Homo sapiens: one gene and its partners. The gene in region 1 interacts genetically with each later gene. Each region holds a gene or a part of one and is shown in the gene's direction. Other genes may lie near its edges.

Region 1 (5,013 bases):
CTCCTGGCCTCAAGTGATCCTCCCACCTTGACTTTCTAAAGTGCTGGGATTGCAGGCATGAGCCACCGTGCCTGGCCTACATTTCTATTCTTTTCTCTTTCTGTTCAAATGAATAAACACGGCCATCCACCAGGTTGCTCAGGTCAGAAACCTAGGAGTCATCCTAGATTTTTTCCTCTCTTCATCACCCATATTCAATTCCACATAAAATCCCATGAATGCTGTTTCCTCAAATCAGTTTTTAAAAATTTGAGTAATGTATAGATACTAAATATTTCTCTGCTGTCCCAATGTTAAATTATTTATTTATTTATTTTACTTCTGACACAGGTTCTCACTCTGTTGCCCAGGCTAGAGTGCAGGGGCATGATCACAGCCCACTGCAGGCTTGATCTCTTGGGTTCAAGTGATCCTCCCGCCTCAGCCTCCCAAGTAGCTGGGAATATAGGCACGTGCCACCACAACTGGCTAATTATTTATTTTTTTGTAGAGACGAGGTCTCACTATATTACCCAGGTTATTCTTGAACTCCTGAGGTCAAGCCGTGCTCCCACCTTGGCTTTTCAAAGTGCTCGGATTACAAGATCAAGCCAACATGCCTGGCAAAAATTATTTTTATTAAATGTGTATATGCAAACACAAAACTAGATGTAAACTTCATAGGGTTATAGCTATTGTACTATTGTAAAACCAAACATTAAAAATATCAACATATGGCTGGGCATGGTGGCTCACGCCTGTAATCCCAGCACTTTGGGAGGCTGAGGTGGCCAGATCACTTGAGGTCAGAAGTTCAAGAACAGCCTGGCCAACATGGTGAAATCCCGTCTCTACTAAAAATACAAAATTAGCCAGCGTGGTGGTGCACACCTGTAATCCTAGCTACTCGAGAGGCTGAATGAGGCAGGAGAATCGCCTGAACCCAGGAGGCGGAGGTTGCAGTGAGCCGAGATCGCACCACTGCACTTTAGCTTGGGCAACAGAGCGAGACTCTGTCTCAAAAAAAAATCAAAAGCAATATAATTCAATTTTAAAACATTAAACAATATGCTACATTTTGTTTGAAACCACAGTTGATTTGATTGTTTTAATTTTGAATATGTTGGAACATTACTTGGGTGACTATCATGCTCACTTTTTCCTTTTTGTTTTTGAGACACGTTCTCACTCTGTAGCCCAGGGTGGAATGCCTAATTATAGCTCACTGAAGTCAAACTCCTGGGCTCAAGCAGTCCTCTTGCCTCAGCCTCCTGAGAAGCTAGATCTACAGGCATGTGCCACAACTCCTGGCTAATTTTTTAATTTTTAATTTTTTTGTGTGGAAATGGAGTCTCGCTGTGTTGCCCAGGCTGGTCTCCTACTCCTGAGCTCAAGTAGTTCTGCTTTGGCCTCCCAGTGTGATGGGATTACAGGCATGAGCCACCATGCCCAACCTCTACACGATTTTAATAGGGGAAGAATGGGGTGGGGGAGAGGACATTTACTGGAAAACAGACGACTTATAGGAAGGATAAATGGGCTTTTAGAATAGATATGATAGTTTTGTGATGATATCTGTTTAGGTGTGGTGTGGAAATTTCTCATCTCAGGTCATGAGTCAGATTGACATCTTTCCTGGTTGCCCCTGGGAAGTAGATTATGACAATTGAGTTCTTTTGGAAGGCTCTGTTTTAGGCAGATAAGAGATTTTAGGAACTCAAATGCCTTCTGCTTAAAATAATTTTTATGCCATAGTAGCGTATTCTGGACCCCTTCACAATCACTGACCCATTTATTTTTATTTATTTATTTATTTATTTATTTATTTATTTATTTATTGAGATGGAATCTTGCTCTGTCACCCAGGCTGGAGTGCAGTGGCGCGATGTTGGCTCACTGCAAGCTCTGCCTCCTGGGTTCACGCCATTCTCCTGCCTCAGCCTCCCGAGTAGCTGGGACTACAGGCACCCGCCACCACGCTCCACTAATTTTTTTGTATTTTTAGTAGAGATGGGGTTTCACCATGTTAGCCAGGATGGTCTTGATCTCCTGACCTCGTGATCCGCCCGCCTTGGCCTCCCAAAGTGCTGGGATTATAGGCGTGAGCCACCGCGCCTGGCCTCACAGACCCATTATTTTGATGGGCTACTTAGTAATGACTTCAGAATTTAAAAAAATTATCCATTTAGTGAAGGTGTCATTATATATTTATTACTACACTTTTTGTGAACTACTTGTAATTGATCCATATATGATTTTCACATAGTGGGGAGGGATGTCAGAAAAAAAAATTTTCATGTAATAGTTACTCACAATAGGTCTATGATGGTGACTACCACAAAACAAGTTCTTTTGTATCTGTCTTCCTGCCAGTTGGCCTTATGACCTCATATTCTTTTTTTTTTTTTTTTTTTTGAGACAGGATACAGGGTCTCACTTTGTCACAGAGGCTGGAGTGCAGTGGCGTGAACGCAGCTCCCTGCAGCCTTAACCTCCTGTGCTCAGTGATCCTCCTGCCTCAGCCCCAAGTAGCTGGGACTTACAGGCAGGCGCCACCACACCCAACTAATTCTTATATTTTTTATAGAGACGAGGTCTTACTATTATGTCCAGGCTGGTCTCGAACTCCTGAGCTCAAGCTATCTGCCCGCCTTGGCCTCCCAAAGTGTTGGGATTATATGTGTGAGGCACCATGCCCAGCATGTTTTCATCTTTATTGGCCTGTCAAATTTTTGCTTATTTTGTACATTTTGATGGTATTTGGCTTTCACTTGGCTGTACCTGGCTTGAAGGCACCTCTTTAGCGTATTAGCTTGTGATAAGATTGTAAATACAACCTGTTTGCTCACGCCTGTAATCCTAGCGCTTATAGAGGCTGAGGCAGGAGGATTACTTGAGCTCAGGAATTTGAGACCAGCCTGGGCAACATAGTGAGTCTCTGTCTCTACAAAAAAAAAAAAAAAAAATTAGGCCGGCGTGGTGGTGCATGCCTGTAGTCCCAGCTTCTCAGGAGGCTTAGATGGGAGGATCGCTTGAGCCCAGGAGGTCAGAGCTACAGTGAGCCATGATTGTGCCACTGTACTCCAGCTTGGATGACAGAGTAAAGTGCTGTCTCAATCAATCAATCAATCCATAAGTAAGTAAATAAAATTGTAATACAAATATGAAACTAGGCCAGGACATCTTGTGGCAACATTGGGCTGTGAGATGGCCTATTTTTATCCAAGTGACCCAACATATGCTTATATATTATTTTTTTACAAATGTTTTCATTTATTGAGACATCTCTGTATTCCCTCTGTTACTTGCTACTGTTTAGTCCATCTTTTTTTTTTTTTTTTGTCACCCAGGCTGGAGTGCAATGGTGTGACCTTGGCTCACTGCAGCCTTGACCTCCTGGGTTCAAGTAATCCTCCTGCCTCAGCCCCCCAAGTAGCTAAGACTACAGGCGCATACCATCAAGGCTGGCTACTTTTTGTTTTTTTTTATAGGCATGGGGTTTCACCATGTTGCCCAGGCTGGTCTTGAACTCCTGGGCTCAAGCTATCCACCTGCCTTGGCCTCCCAAAGTGCTGGGATTACAGATGTGAGCCACTGCGCTGGCCTTCATTGTGGTTTTGATTTACATTTCTGTTATGACTAATTATGTTTGTATTTCTCTAATGACTGATGATGTTGAATGTTTTGGCATGTGCTTATTAGCTATCTTCTTTGGAAGTATGTTTGAATGTCTATTTAAGTCCTTTGCTTATTTTTTAATTGAGTTATGTGTTTTTATTGCTGACTGTAAGAATATATGTTTTACTTTATTTCTTAAAGTATTGCTATATTCGTTGGTAAGACTAATTTTTCCTCCTTTTATTGGAAGGTCCTGTCCAAAATGCATTGCTGTCTTCACAAGAGTCAGTGAGCCAAGGATACAATTTCCAGCTTCCAGGATCCTACCCTCATCCAATACCAGCAAAGACTTTGAATCCAGTCTCTGGACAGTCTAACTATGGTGGTTCTCAGGGATCTGGGCAGACTCTTAATAGACCACCTGTGGCCTCTAATCCAGTGACACCTTCGCTTCATAGTGGTCCTGCTCCCCGAATGCCATTACCTGCTTCTCAGAACCCAGCTACTACACCAATGCCTTCTAGTAGCTTTCTTCCTGAAGCCAACCTGCCACCACCTTTGAATTGGCAATATAACTATCCATCCACAGCCTCACAAACAAACCATTGTCCTCGTGCATCATCCCAACCAACTGTATCTGGAAATACAAGTTTAACCACAAATCATCAATATGTTTCTTCTGGATATCCTTCACTTCAAAATAGCTTCATAAAGTCAGGTAGTATTCTTATAGAAGTGCTTAAAATGTAGAAATGTGAAACTTTTGCTTATTTAGATGTTTGAAATAATACTTGAAACCTGAAAACCATATGGAAAATGTGACTTTTAAAATTATTAGTAGTTTTTTGTTGTTTTTTGTTTTTCGGCTTTCCAGCAAAAACCAGAAAGCCTGCTAGACAAATTAAGTAAGCTATAACACTCATTAGTAGTTTTTTTTTTCATTCTTTTTTCTCTTTTTTTTTTTTTTTTTTGAGATGGGGTCTTGCTCTGTCACCCAGGCTGGAAAGCAGTGGCACAATCTCAGCTCACTGCAACCTCTGCCTCCCTGGTTCAAGCAATTTTCCTGCCTCAGCCTCCAGAGTAGCTGGGATTATGGGATTACAGGCACGTGCCACTGCACCCAGCTAACTTTTTGTATTTTTAGTAGAGATGGGGTTTCACCATATTGGCCAGGCTGGTCTTGAACTCCCGACCTCAGGTAATCCGCCCACCTCAGCCTCCCAAAGTGCGAGGATTACAGGCGTGAGCCACCACACCTGGCCACATTTATTTATTTTATTTATTTATTATTTATTTATTTTTTTGAGACGGAGTCTCTCTCTGTCGCCCAGGCTGGAGTGCAGTGGCGTGATCTTGGCTCACTGCAAGCTCTGCCTCCCGGGTTCACGCCATTCTCCTGCCTCAGCCTCCCGAGTA
Region 2 (4,604 bases), on another chromosome or scaffold:
GACAGGGAACGACTAGCTATTACAAAAGAAGAATTATACAGAATGTTGGCTCATGAGGTAAATTTTTAAAGTAAATCTTTAAAAAACAGTGTAGTAAAGTATCTGTACGTTGCCTTTGCTTTTTTGCAAAGATTAATGTGATATGATGTTGGCTATTTTATGATTAACACAACTTTATGTACTAAACTGATGAAAGTCTTGAGGTAAAAAAAAATGTTCATTACTTTTTCAAACTTAAAAAACCCTAACACATTAATTTGTAGATTACTACTGTTATTGTAAAAATTTTTCAAAGCTAAAGTTACTTAAGCATGCCTTTAAAAGTCTGATAAATTGAGATAAGCAAAAGGAAAACTTAAGGGTCTTTTCCCCAAAAGTTTCAATAACTGAAAGGTTTTTTTTTTGTTTTTTGTTTTTGTTTTTGTTTTTTTTGAGACGGAGTCTTGCTCTGTTGCCCAGGCTGGAGTACCGTGGCGCGATCTTGGCTCACTGCAACCTCCGCCTCCTGGGTTCAAGCAGTTCTCTGCCTCAGCCTCCCGAGTAGCTGGGATTACAGGAACCCGCCACCACGCCTGGTTAATTTTTGTATTTTTAGTAGAGACAGGATTTCACCATCTTCGCCAGCCTGGCCTTGAATTCCTGATGTCGTTATCCGCCTGCCTCAGCCTCCCAAAGTGCTGGGATTACAGGTGTGAGCCACTGTGCCTGGCCTGTATTCCATGTTTTTCAAACTTATACTATATAATATATATCTTTCTGAATCTTGCTCTTTTTGTACAACATTGTGACTTATCCATGATAATATATTCTGATTATCCATCTTAATATGTACTGCTTTCGTTCATTCCTTTTAACAACTGTATAGTTTTCCACAGTATGAGTATATCACAATCTATTCTTCTAATGTTTTCATAGTATAAACAATGCTGAAATGAATATTAACCAATGACCTTATGTTATACAAAGACTAGTAAGTAATAAGTATTGCCCAGCTCCCACCACCAGTACTCTTAAGTTTTGGATAAACTCTAGTATTTGGCAACATACTACCATATTTGCCTATTAGAATATTAATTATGTATTTTTGAGTCAGTATTTAAAATTCAGGTGTATTTTTTTTTTTCAGTTTGACCAGTTCGACTCAAAAATAAAAAATAATTATTTAATATTAATCTGTTGGAATGAATAATGAAATTACGGGTATTTGAGATTATTTTTATGTTAAATACTAGTGCCCGATTATGTTAAAGTAGAAGCACTTCATTATAACTGTTCAGCTGGGTAAATTTAAATTGTGGTATTTCACATATTAGAAATATTTTGTCTTGATTGCAGGATTTACGGAAGGCTGCAGTCCTTATCTTTGCAAATAAACAGGATATGAAAGGGTGTATGACAGCAGCTGAAATCTCGAAATACCTCACCCTTAGTTCAATTAAGGATCATCCATGGCACATTCAATCCTGCTGTGCTCTCACAGGAGAAGGGTAAGTTCATCCGTCTGAGGGGAGGTATGACTTCTTTCAAATTTCTTCCAACTTTTTAGGCCAACTTGTTTTCTTCATGGGTCCTGTTCCTTTTCTGTTTGTTTGTTCTTAATTAAAGGTGACTTTTATAATGTGTCTCAGGCTTACAACCTAGAAATAATTCTAGTAAAATCACTGGCAACTTAAAAACTTTTAATGTAAATATAATGTTTTACCAAAAAGCAATAAACTATTGAATTGAGTTTTCATAATCCAAATTTTTTTCTTTGTTGCCTTTATCATATACTGAGAAAAAAACTGTAATGTCACCTTTCTTTTAAAAAGGAAGCTTGAAAGAAATTTCACATTTTCTGCAAGGACTTAAACCTGAGCTCTCAGCTTTCTGCAAGAGTATGTCTTCTTTATTATTAGGAGGTCTTTTGGGAGGCATATTTCCAGACAATAAACAGTTGAGACAAATGCCACATGGTCTATTCTTCCATCTCTAACAATTTGAATGTGGGTATTAGGCCAAGAAGAACCGAATGTTATTTAAGTATTATCCTGTTTATATCAGAGAACTTATCCTCAAATCAACCTCACCTTCTTAGTTTTTCTCTTAGTATTTATCAGAAATAGCTTGCAGTAATAGCTGTGTGTAGGCCTTTTTGACTCATACTTTTAAGACTGAGTCTAAGTATTCCATTCTTTAGAATTGAGGAGGATAAGGTGAAGTTGCTATTGACTTTCTCCAGTCGTTAAGTTTCAGTTAATTTTAAAAGGCGGGGAGTATTTGCACTCTTCATGGCAAAACTGGCAAAGTTGTATCTTCAAGATGAGACTGAAGCAATTTCCCACAAACTGATTAAGAATATTTAAGAGAACATTCCATTTAAAAATTTCACTTATTATAGTGTGACTTGAATGTTGACACTGATGTATATAAATAATGATTGTGCTACCAGCCTTTGGTTAAGACCTAAAAATAATAAGTACGCTTTCAGTTTTTAAGTATAAGGTTTTTAATTAAAAATACTTCTATCTTTTGTTTAGGTTATGCCAAGGTCTAGAGTGGATGACCTCCCGGATTGGTGTGAGATAACTTTTTTGCTTGAAAGAGACTGCTCTATTTATTCTGTGACATGAACATTTTTTCCTAGTACCTTTGGCTGCTAAGGCAGCAGCATGTTTAATTTATAACAACACAAACCTCTGAGAGCAACACTTGAATCAAGTGCAGCTGAACTGGAACATAAAAGATTTTTTCTTAACTTTTTTTTTTTAACACACTAATCTTCAGTTGGATGAATGTAATGTATAACTATGTTTTCAGCAACAATTCTTCTGTTTATTCTAATTAATCAGTGACTGCCTTGTAAGAAATGTTTGTCATATGCGTGATGTCTTCTGAAATATTCTTATAACCTTAATGACCAATTGCTTTCAATTCTTGACCAGCACTCCCTCCCAACCAGAGAATTACTGGTTTGATAGAGTAGTCTTGGAAACCATCAGGTACTGCCTGCAGACTTCTCCAGCACTAAATATATTTGTTCCCTCTATAAACCATTCATCTTTCGGACAGAACTTACTGTAAAGAAAGAAATCTGCCTAGAGGATATATGTAAGGAAGATTCCACATCATGAGTACTTGCCTTTTAACTTTCCCCCACATTACTGTTGAGTCATGGAATAATGTTTAAGTTGTTATTTGCATGGAAATTAAGTAGGCTGTTTATTTATCTAAAGGAATCAAGTCCACTCTTCTGCCTGCAACATTTGTTCAAAAACTAACCAAGGTAAAATATTTATTTGAAAGCCCAACTTTGATGTTAAATATTCTTGAATAAATCTGTTATTTTAAGAATATCACATTATTCAATGCATATAAAACTATCAGAAGTTAGTAAATCATACCAGCACTAAAAATAAGACAATTGGAATATATTTTAGCATCAGTTTACAAACAACTTTATTATCAACAGAAATTTTAGCTCTTTTCTTTGCAAGATATATCACAGCTGCTTTGGGCAGTAGCTGAAGCCGAAGTATGAACAGTCCATTTTGTTTCTTAAAATTTGAAGTCGTGTCTGTCATAGCATTTTTACTACCAGCAGTATGTTACTTAAAAAACTACATGGCTTTCCTTGAATTTATTTGACGGTATTATGTAATAGACTTGAAACAATTGCCATCTTTGTAGTTATGCCTTGGGTTCTAAAATGTTATAGGAAACTGCTGAATTGAATCCTAGCTTTTAGAATATTAATAGGAGACTCAAAGTTAATATTCTTAACAACTTAAAATTAAAAAAAGTCATAATCTATCAAAAGTTTATTTATTGGATGGCATTAAAACATTTTTGAGGCAGTTGTCTAATATGAACAATAATCTAAACAATATATTCCTTAAATTAAGAGGAAAGACAAGTGTCGTATTTCGATCCTGTTTATTCAAATGTGTGATTTTGCTGAAATGAAAGGGATAAAATGAATACTTAGAGAATAATACTTCATTTTTGCAGTACTTTTTAATTTTGATAAAAAAGATACAAAGTTCATAATATCAAAATATGTGTTCAAAATTGGTATTTTAATTTTAATATTTTTGTAAGTTGATTTAAATTTTGCTCTTTTTTCAGGTGTGCTTGGTTTATTATATTTAGTCAAGTTAATTTAGTCGAATGTGGTAACATTTTTCTGATTTATCTTTAGTTGGAGCACACCCTTGAACTGAACAGTGGCCAAAGGAAAGCTTTCTGGGCTTTGGAAAGTAGTTGTTTAACTTTGTTTTAAGCCGTTTTCTTAGTGATTCTGTATCAAGTAGAGGATAAGTGTAGTTTAACTTAGTTTTTAATATAACCCATAATCAAGAACATGAGCGAAAAGCAGACATAAATCGATATGGATGGTTTGTGGTGTGTGTGGGATGTGGGGGAATTAAGAAAATGCCATTTACCTAAGCACAGTTTGCCTGAATTTCTGCTTGGTTGTGTTGTTTACCGTAAGTACTGAGGGTAGTTTCCCTAAGTCTGTCCTGAGAAAAAGCATACTTAGTACTCCTGTATTTGTTCTTATGAAATGACTATCTGCCTTCTTGTATCTAGTAAGATTGGCTGGCTCAATTTTCTTCTGTCAA
Region 3 (5,324 bases), on another chromosome or scaffold:
TGACTGACCAGCCTCTTGGGGGTTCATACTGCACGAGCACAAATTGATATGCAGCCAAAGACTCAATGGCCCCTTAACAGGTTTCCAGAGCTTTTCTCTGTGTAGCTCCCTCCTTCCAGTTACTCTGCTTCACAAATTCTAGTCACCTTGATCTCTGGGAATGCTGATATGCGTCTTCAGTTCTAAGAGGTTTCCAGATTCTCATTTGGGTTCCCACTTCCTCCGTAGTTGACTGGGAATTGCTTTTAGGGATAAAGTCCAGGAAATGGTAAGACTCCACCTGTTCCTTTCTCTTTTGCAAAGAATCACAGTACTGTGATGTGTTTTTCAATATCTGAAATGTCGTTGCCTGTACTTTGTGCAGTTTTCTATTTGCTAATGGTAGGAGGATATATTCAAACCATCCTACTCTCTCATGCCTGAAGTCAGAAGTCTCTCCAATGACATTTTGCATTTCTCTGTAATCATAGATAAATTGGTCTTTAAACTCTCTGTCTCTGTCTCTCTCTCTCTCTTCTTTCTTCACTCGGAAAATAACCTGGGAGACCATTTCCTTGGGTAGATTGTAAAATATGAAGCTCCGCCATCACATAATGTGTATATGACATCCATTTCATAAGTTGACATCTGTGTGGGAGTCTGAAAAAGTCTTAGAGCTACCAAAGCATTACCTACGGTGTGCGAGAATGGAAATATTACAGAGTTAATGCAAATTGGTTATACAAACTACATTGTTCTTCTAAACAGTGTACAGAATATTAAGTAAATCCAGACATGATAATACATAAATTAATATGGATTACTATGATTTTCCTTCCCTTCATGTATGGCTCCTCTAAACTTTGGCTTTTTAACCATAAAGCCCCAAAAGAAGTCAACGAAATTACTTTTCTATATTTTGAGGTAAAATACTGGGTAGTTAGGAGAAGTGAGTTGGGAAGGTGCGGTTTATTGCTGATTTTGCTTAATTTCATTCAGCTGTTGGGGATGGGAGTGCAAAGCAGTTCAAATGGCTCCTACAAGTCTCCCAATTTTTCTTTATTTTCCTTTTTACTAAGGTTAACGAGAACAGAAAGGGATGGAGCTTTGGTGGCCACTAAAGGTTTTTAAACAGGGTAGTGACTTGATCAAAATCGTTGTTTTGGGCAATACTGACGTGAGAGTTAAGAGATTGGAGAGAAAAGAGCCCTGAAGTGCAAAAATGGCTTTAAGGTGACTATCTAGGTAAGGCCACTGACTTCAGCTGAGTGTCAGAGGGCAGCAGACTTTTCCCTCAAAGACCCACAGGGGACACAATGTCTTAAAGAGTCATGACGTGGAACTTTAAGTGTAGTGTATGTGAAGGGTTGGGGATGGACATGGGGTACTCAATTATATGTTTACATTATGGCGCAGTGGAGAAGATTCGAGGGAAATATAAATACTCGGGGACGCAACAGCAAGCAGTCGGAAGCCATCTGCCCCAACTTGCGGTCTTCACAGCCTCAGTCCCAGGGTAAAGTCCTGCGCCTTCCGCAGTCTTGGTTATGCAAATAAGCGAGGACAGGGCGGGCGCCCTTTCCTACGCTCCGCCCCTCTGGCCGCGCGCCTGCGCACTCACGTCCCTCCAGGCCCGCCCCTTCACTTCCCCCGCCCGCGTGGTCGTCGCCACCGCAGCCGCCCGAGAGGAGCTGGGGGAGGACGGTGGCCCGCGAGGCTCGTCGCAGACAACGCGGCGGCGATGTCCGCGAGCCAGGCGAGTGCCGCGGCGGCAGCGGCGGGGCCTTGCGCGCGGCAGGGCGGCCTGGGCTTCGGCCTCCCTCCGGTTCCCTGGAAGCGGGCCCGCGACCAGCGCGGGAGCAGCAGCAGAGGCGGAGGCTCCAGCGCGTCTCTCTCCTCCCCCTCAGCCTGAGCCGGGGGAAGCCAGGCGGCCCGGGTGTCTGGAGGGGGGGGGTCCGCTGCCCGAGAATGGGAATTCTCTTCACTAGAATATGGAGACTGTTCAATCACCAGGGTGAGGAGCTCGGTCCGCGGGCGTACGGGTTGGGGAGAGGGTCAGCTCGGGCCGGCTAGGTGGGGGTCTCCGAATACTTCGGAATGTGGGCGGCTCGGTCGGGCGCCAGCTCAGCGCGGGGTGCAGGCTGCGCGGATACGGGCCCGGGACGGTTCGGTCCCGGCTCCCGAGCTTGGGGATGGTTCCTGACTCGCAGCCCTTTGTCTTAGGAGACCTTCCTAAGAAGTCTTTTCCGTAATAGACCCATTGCTCCGATTTCGAATGAGAGTGGTAAAGGTTTCTTGCCCTAGGTCCGACGTCCCTGAGTAGCACGGCCTGGCCTGTCTTTCAGCCCTTTCTTTGCTCACCAGTTGTGTTTGGACACCACATAGAAGTGCTGGGGTCTTCTGGAATGAAGGTTATAGATTGCTGCCCTAACCGCACCACTGAGCGACCGAGGGTTGCAGAATGCGGAAAACGGGAGGAATCGCTCGACTTGTCCATTACACCTCTGGTTTATGAGCCTGCCCTCCACTGCCACCCGTCTTTGTGTGTGTTGGGGGCAGGGGGGGTTCTTCTGCCTCCTGAATAGAGATGGACTTCTCTCCATTTGTTTTACTTATTATATCTGTGTTTAAGGTTAAGCTTAAGGTCATTTTTCTACTCGTGTGGGTTATTAGACACAGTTTTTGTTTGTTTTGCTGGGTTAAAAATGTTAAAGTGTTTCACTGAAAGTTTTAAAAACATACCATATGAAACATTTGTTAACCATAGGTAACTAGCAAGTTACTAAGTGTAAAGTGTGTTATATAGGGATGCTTAAGTTCAGCCAACTTCAGACATGGCCATGAAATACCTATCAGGCTTGTTAAAATTTGTTACAAAATGACTAAAACTGGGGAAAGAGAATACAATTTTAACCCAAAGACTGGATACTTATTAAGATACAGTGGTGTACTTTTGTTTCTTTTTAACTCAAGTTGGGTGGTTCATCATTCCGCTGTCAGGAACTTAGTTTGTGTTTTTCTGTTGTGTAAGCTGATGGTGTCACGTCCCAGTTTTCCAATAAAGACTTACGTGAATGGTGGCATCTATTATGTACACCTACTACTACCACCTCCTCCTTCATGATCTAGCTGCTCTTTTAAGAAGCTTAGGGGAAGCAAGCAGAACTAGAACTTGTGATCCCTAATGTATCTTTTACGCACACACACACACACACAGATGTGTAGGTCACGTGATACCGAAAGAAAGGGCAGTATCAATTTTTCTGATAAGAGGATTTTTCATAAAGTAGAGAAAATCAGTTCTAATCAGCACTGTCTCTGACTGGACTGGCTGTTAGTGTTGGGAGCAGGAGAGTGGGAAGCAGTCACTTGAACTCTCAGGTTTTCTGGTCTAGGTTTTCTCACCTAGAACACCAGGGATCTGTGGAGCTTCCAAATCTTGTAAACTTTATTTCTACATTGCAAATATTAAAACGTACATTGCTGTAAGACTGATGGTACTTATAGTAGATAAGATCTATTCTAGTTTTAACATCCATCATTTTGTATTATTTTTAGCAAAGCTAGTGTTTCATCTGCTGTGAGGTTTAGCAAGACTGTGAATTGAGCTCTAGTGCTGCCAGAAAAAGAGTTATCACCACTTTCTATTTTGAGTCAATGATAAAATTATTTGTTTCTGTAAGTTAAGAATAAATGAGAACTTTGCCAACAGCTCCTTGGAGTAGTAAATAATAAGGGTGTGTGCTCTGGTATCACTACAAATTGCTAATAGTAGTGTTTTTATAACCTGTATTTTGTGGTAATTTTTGACGGGACATTTATGGCAGTTTGGCGGAAATTAATAGAGAAATTAATGAAGTTAAGTTCTAGAAAATTAGATATGAATATTGTGAAAGTGTGAATAAATTATTTATTTTCTGCTAAACAGTGTGGCTGTCTTATCAATAGGGTCACTTTTCCGAATATCCACCATTTAATCTAATGCCAGATATTTGTTGGGTTTTGTTTTTGTTTTTGTTTTTTTGAGATGGAGTCTTGCTCTGTCACCAGGCTGGAGTGCAGTGGTGTGATCTTGGCCCACTGCAACCTGTGCCTCCTGGGTTCAAGCGATTCTCCTGCCTCAGCCTCCCGAGTGGCTGGACTACAGGTGCGTGCCACCACACCCAGCTAATTTTTGTATTTTTTGTAGAGATGGGGTTTCACCACGTTGGCCAGAATGGTCACCATCTCTTGACTTCGTGATCCACCCGCCTTGGGCTCCCAAAGTGCTGGGATTACAGGCCTGAGCCATGGTGCCCAGCAGGGTTGTTTTTTTTTTTTTCTGTATAGGACATATATAAGTTAGATATGTGTTGGATGCTCTTGTTTTACCTTCAGTGGATTCAGAATGCAATCTTACTTTCTTTTCATAGAAACTCTTGGAAAGTATGTTTCGGGAGATTACAGAATTTGCCATCTGATGAAACTTAAACTATGCAGTATCTCCTGTTTCTGAAACCCCTCGAGAACAGCTTTTTCAGTTAAAGCTCAGATTGAGTGCACAGTGAAAGCTATTTGTATACCGCTCGAACTAGAAAAACCAGAGGTCACATTTAGTTGATACTGAGATTCAGTAGAGTACAAACTTTATCCTAGATGCTGTCATTTAAATCATTTTATTTTATTTTATTTTATGTTTTAACAATCTTTTGAAGTAGTTATTTCCCCTGAAAAGGGAAAACTGAGGCTTAAGTGGAATGATTTTTTTTCCCCAGGCCATGCAACTGGTATATGCCAGAGCCAGGCAAGTTAAAACCCTGAAGGAATCTCTTAAAGAAGAGATTGACATCATTTTTCCCTCCCTCCTCCTCCCCCCATTAACTTTTTCAGTTGCTAATCTCTAAGTTGTCTTTAGAACTTCGAAAAGTTGCCATTAGTAACTTTTTTTTATAGAAGAGCTTGTGATCAGTGGTTTACTTGTTCTCAATAAACAAATATTTTAACACCTATTTAGTCCAGGAAGTGTTCTACATGGTGGGATAAGGGAACAAAACAGACAAATTCCACTGCCTTTATGGAGCTTTCATGTAGTGTTGGGAGACAGGAAATTAACTCACTTTGTCTCTACAAGTAAAATAATAGTGGTTAACACTTGTGCAAGGTTCACACAGGTTGTTTGATTTAATATTCACTTAGTTGATTTACTCTTTACAACAACCCTACAAGGTAGATATTATTCCCCTTATTTTACAGGGGTACGGAAACAGGTAACTTGCTTTAAGCACTATAGGTAAAAGTGATAGACCTGGATTTTAACCACGATTACGTAGTGCCGGAGTTATTTCTCCTACGCACACACACCTGGA
Region 4 (4,604 bases), on another chromosome or scaffold:
TTTCTTTTAAATACTTTATTTGAATAATTTATTTGCTTTTTTTTTGATCAGTTACTTAGCTAAGGTTTCTTTTCAAAGGATCATATCCAGAGTCCCAAACATTTCTGTACATCTGCTACATGAACCCCCTGCACTGACTAATGAAATGTATTGTTTGGTTGTGACTGTTCAGTCCCATGAAAAGACCCAAATCAGAGATGTGAAGCTCACCGCTGGCTTAAAACCAGGTAAGCATTCCTTTTTGTAAGTTTGATCAGTATTAATCCAACATTAAATAAGCATCAGTGATGTCAACTCTAGGACTTTTGTTTACAAGAGGGTATGGCATAGTGCTCTTCACACAGTATTGATTATTGGGATAATGTTTGAATTCTTTGTTTTGAAGAACCAATATTAACTCTTTTAGGACAGGATGCCAATTTAACTCAGAAGACTCACGTGACTCTTCATGGAACAGAACTGTGTGATGAATCCTACCCGGCTTTACTCACTGACATTCCTGTTGGAGACTTACATCCAGGGGAACAGGTAAACTTGGTCAACTGGGATTGAAGAGGAAATCAATTAGTTTGTAGTTTTAAATATATAGTGAGTTTTTAACAGTTCAGAGCGTTTTAACGCATATTCTAGGACTGAAAAAGTGATTTAACTAATGAACATTTCATACACATTTTACATACGTAAATGTGTAAAATGTCTTAAGCAGTTTTTCTACAAGGGAATTTAGAAAACATGCTTAACATGAATTAGTGGGCTAATAAAATACCCATTGTTTGTAACTTAGTGCAGTTAACTTCTCAGTCAACTTCTGCTTCCAAACTAGATAGAAAAATATTTTGGAAGTTAAAGAACAATAATTTCTAAAAGATGCAGTAGTAATGATCCCACCCTTATACTGTGGCCACAGTGTAATCAGAGTACTCTACTACAGTGGGAGCATTGATGAGTTACATTGTAACATTCTGTAAAAGTGATAAAGAATTTAGCCAGTTGGTATAAATAAACTCTAGAAGGTGGGAACATTATCCTAGAATATATATCAAGAAGAAATGTCTGTAATACTAATTAAATTACAACATTTATTTTGTTACAGCTGGAAAAAATGTTGTATGTTCGCTGTGGAACAGTGGGTTCCAGAATGTTTCTTGTATATGTTTCTTACCTGATAAATACAACCGTTGAAGAAAAAGAAATTGTTTGCAAGTGTCACAAGGTATTTTTTTATAGCTACTTTATAAAGCATCATATGTGGAGTATTCCCATTTTGTGTTATTTTAGTTTACCTATAAAATAAGCATAAAATAAGCAGTTTAGGTGCTTATAGTCTGTTATAAATTTTAATTAAACTTTTTAAAAAATCACTTATATTGAGATTTGTTTAGGCTGGCATTCACTGCTCAAACATTAAACAGAAAATTAGCTTATATGGCTTTTCTTTTTTTTTTTTTTTTTTTTGAGGCGGAGTTTTGCCCTTGTCGCCCAGGCTGGAGTGCAGTGGCACGATCTTGGCTCACTGCGACCTCCACCTCCCGGGTTCAAGCGATTCTCCTGCCTCAGCCTCCCGAGTAGCTGGGATTACAGGCATGCACCACCACACCCAGCTAATTTTTTGTATTTTTAGTAGATACGGGGTTTCTCCATGTTGGTCAGGCTGGTCTTGAACTCCCAACCTCAGGTGATCTGCCCACCTTGGCCTCCCAAAGTGCTGGGATTACAGGCGTGATCCACTGGACCCGGCCTATATGGCTTTTCGTATAGAGGATCAATAGGATTGAGATCTCAAGCAAATCACACATGAGATAAAATCTGTAAGTTGACTTACATATAGAGGGTTCTGGAGAAAAGGAGGTCGCCCTTTGAAAGGCATTTTTCTGTTATTAAAAAATATTGGTAAAAATTGTTTTCGGTAAGTGCACATAAAAGTGAAAATAGGAACGATCACGGTTACAGTTCACAACTCGAAGGCAACTGCTAACTCTTTGTGTTTCTTATTGGTCTCTTTTCTATTTCTAGAGATTTTTAACAGGCCATGTTTCTAAATAGATTCAATTGTGCTGTATATAATGTTTATGTTCTCTTTTGTTAGTAGAACATTATGATATTTGGTATCTTCTTGGTCCTGACAGTAATGTTGTCTTAGTTTTCTCTTAGGAATTGGGTCCTCAGCCCAGCAGAGGAGAAGGCCTATAGCAATTTGGGGATTTGTAGTTTTGTTACTGCACAGAGTCTGGGCTGTGGGCTATTTACTAGTCATTGGGAAAGAAAACCATCTCAAAATTATTAGTATTTCCCAAGCGGGAGAGAAGAAGGCATGTAATGTACTGTTGAAAATTTCTCATAGCCTGGTATAATACATAGAGTCCTATATGGTAGCTTAGGAGATAAGGGTGCCAATCTCAGCACATTATATGTATTATCTCATTTGATTTTTCTAACAAGCCTGTGAGGATTATGAAACTGGGACTTAAAGAGACTGCATGAGTTGAGCATCCCAAATCTGAAAATTCAAAATCCAAAACGTTCCAAAATCTTTTGGAAACTTTTTGAGTGCCAGCATGACACTCAAAGGAAATGCTCCCAGGAGCATTTTGGACTTGGAATGCTCAACAAGTAAGTATAATCCAAATACTCCAAAATCCAAAAAATCTGAGACACTTCTGGCCCCAAGCATTTCAGATAACCTGTATAACTTTCCCAGGGTCACGTCATTAGGTTCAAGGTCACAGAGCTAGTAAATATGTATTGAGCCAGGATTAGAATTCAGCTCTGTCTGGCATTACAGCCTGAGCTTTTAACCAGTATGATCTTTTTTAAAGGTTTCTTACCAAGAGGTTGTGTTATTTGTTTTGAAAGATGAAATAACCCCATGGTTTTTTTTCTTCTTTCTTTTATTTTTTTATTTTGACATGGGGTCTCACTGTGTTGCCCAGCTTGGAGTGTAGTGGCACGATCTTGGTTCACTGCAGCCTCCGACTCCTGGGTTCAAGCAATCCACCCATCTCAGCCTCCCGAGTAACTGGGACTACAGGTGTGCACCACCATACTCAGCAGATTTTTTATATTTTTGGTAGAGACAGGGTTGTGCCATGTTGCTCAGGCTGGTCTTGAACTCCTGAGCTCAAGCAATTTGTCCACCTCAGCCTCCCAAAGCTGGGATTACAGGTGTGAGCCACCATGCCCACCCCCCCATTGTTTTTCTAACAGACTCTTTTAGAAAGGAGATGTAGCATGTTGGTTAAGAGTGTAGGCTCCATGACCTCATCTTAAAGTGGCAATCATAATAGCACTTGTTTCCTTGTGTGATTATGAACATTACATAATACATGTATACGGATGATAGCAGTGTCTGTCACATTACATTATTATTATCTTTCTTATTAGTCATTTTGAGTTGAGGTGTAGTAGGAACTTAGACAAAAGGAAGACCCTAGCTTTGTGGAACGTCTGATTCCTCCTCTGCAAAATGGTGATGATGCCTGCCCTGCCCACTTCATTAGATCCAGAGATAAATAATGTATAAGAAAACACTTTAGCCAGGTGCTGTGGTTCACTCCTGTAGTACCAGCACTTTGGGGTTCTGAGGCAAGAGGATCACTTGAGGCTAGGAGTTCAAGACTAGCCTGAGCAACATAGCAAGACCCCATCTCTAAAACCATAAAATACGGTAGCCGGGCGTGGTAGTGTGCTCCTGTAGTCCCAGCTGCTCAGGAGGATCACTTGAGCCCAGGTGTTCGAGGCTGCAGTGATCTGTGATGGTGCCACTGTCCTCCATCCTGGTTGCCAGAGTGAGACCCTGTCTCCCAAAGGAAAAAAAAAAAATTAGTACTCAGTTCTCTCGACACAGATTTTTACAAATGTTATCTAAAAGGCCTTTACTTCTTAGTATGTATAATTTGGGATTATTTATTGATCAGTGATAGGTTGTGTTTTTTAAAACTTTATATAAAAAGATTTAGAAAATCCATGAATGTGCCCTTTACATTTTCTTGCAGGATGAAACTGTAACAATTGAAACAGTCTTTCCATTTGATGTTGCGGTTAAATTTGTTTCTACCAAGGTATGTTTCTTTGAGGCATACTAGAAATCATTTAGGTTATAAAAATGGACTGAAATGATAAAATGGATTAAGGTAATTCCTGACAGACCTTTTATCTTCATTTGTGACAGTTTGAGCACCTGGAAAGGGTTTATGCTGACATCCCCTTTCTGTTGATGACGGACCTCTTAAGTGCCTCACCCTGGGCCCTCACTATTGTTTCCAGTGAGCTCCAGCTTGCTCCATCCATGACCACAGTGGACCAGCTCGAGTCTCAAGTGGACAATGGTGAGTCTGGTTCATTCCCACTTAAAGACCAGGAGAATTGTGCGCGCGTGTGTGTGTGTGTGTATAAGCTGGCAATGGAAGAGTTAATTAGCTTTTTGCTAAGTGAGGGAACTTGAGACCTGCACTCGTGAAAGCAAATGCATATGGAATTAAGGTGGAATTAGTGTCATTTATAATACCATTTGCTTGAGTATACCTGATTTTAAAAGGTTAGACTTTTTTCCTACTCTAAGGGAGTTATACTTTGAAAATGTACTTCACAAAAAGAATTTTTTTTTC

What was found.
Region 2: changes in SEC24A (region 1) and ARL5B together harm fitness more than expected from each alone (negative genetic interaction), as found in Homo sapiens cells (one large-scale study listed by BioGRID).
Region 3: changes in SEC24A (region 1) and ARL5A together harm fitness more than expected from each alone (negative genetic interaction), as found in Homo sapiens cells (one large-scale study listed by BioGRID).
Region 4: changes in SEC24A (region 1) and TRAPPC11 together harm fitness less than expected from each alone (positive genetic interaction), as found in Homo sapiens cells (one large-scale study listed by BioGRID).

What each region holds. Positions count from the first base shown.
Region 1 is NC_000005.10:134,657,272-134,662,284, forward strand, and holds part of SEC24A (protein transport protein Sec24A), read left to right. Parts: intron 1-3,847; coding exon 3,848-4,315; intron 4,316-4,458; exon of another isoform or gene 4,459-4,518; intron 4,519-5,013. UniProt on the Homo sapiens protein: Component of the coat protein complex II (COPII) which promotes the formation of transport vesicles from the endoplasmic reticulum (ER).
Region 2 is NC_000010.11:18,672,649-18,677,252, forward strand, and holds part of ARL5B (ADP-ribosylation factor-like protein 5B), read left to right. Parts: coding exon 1-57; intron 58-1,335; coding exon 1,336-1,487; intron 1,488-2,519; coding exon 2,520-2,568; 3' UTR 2,569-4,604.
Region 3 is NC_000002.12:151,824,800-151,830,123, reverse strand, and holds the start of ARL5A (ADP-ribosylation factor-like protein 5A), read left to right. Parts: upstream 1-1,702; 5' UTR 1,703-1,947; coding exon 1,948-1,993; intron 1,994-5,324. UniProt on the Homo sapiens protein: Lacks ADP-ribosylation enhancing activity.
Region 4 is NC_000004.12:183,693,511-183,698,114, forward strand, and holds part of TRAPPC11 (trafficking protein particle complex subunit 11), read left to right. Parts: intron 1-78; coding exon 79-227; intron 228-406; coding exon 407-528; intron 529-1,093; coding exon 1,094-1,213; intron 1,214-3,992; coding exon 3,993-4,058; intron 4,059-4,168; coding exon 4,169-4,325; intron 4,326-4,604. UniProt on the Homo sapiens protein: Involved in endoplasmic reticulum to Golgi apparatus trafficking at a very early stage.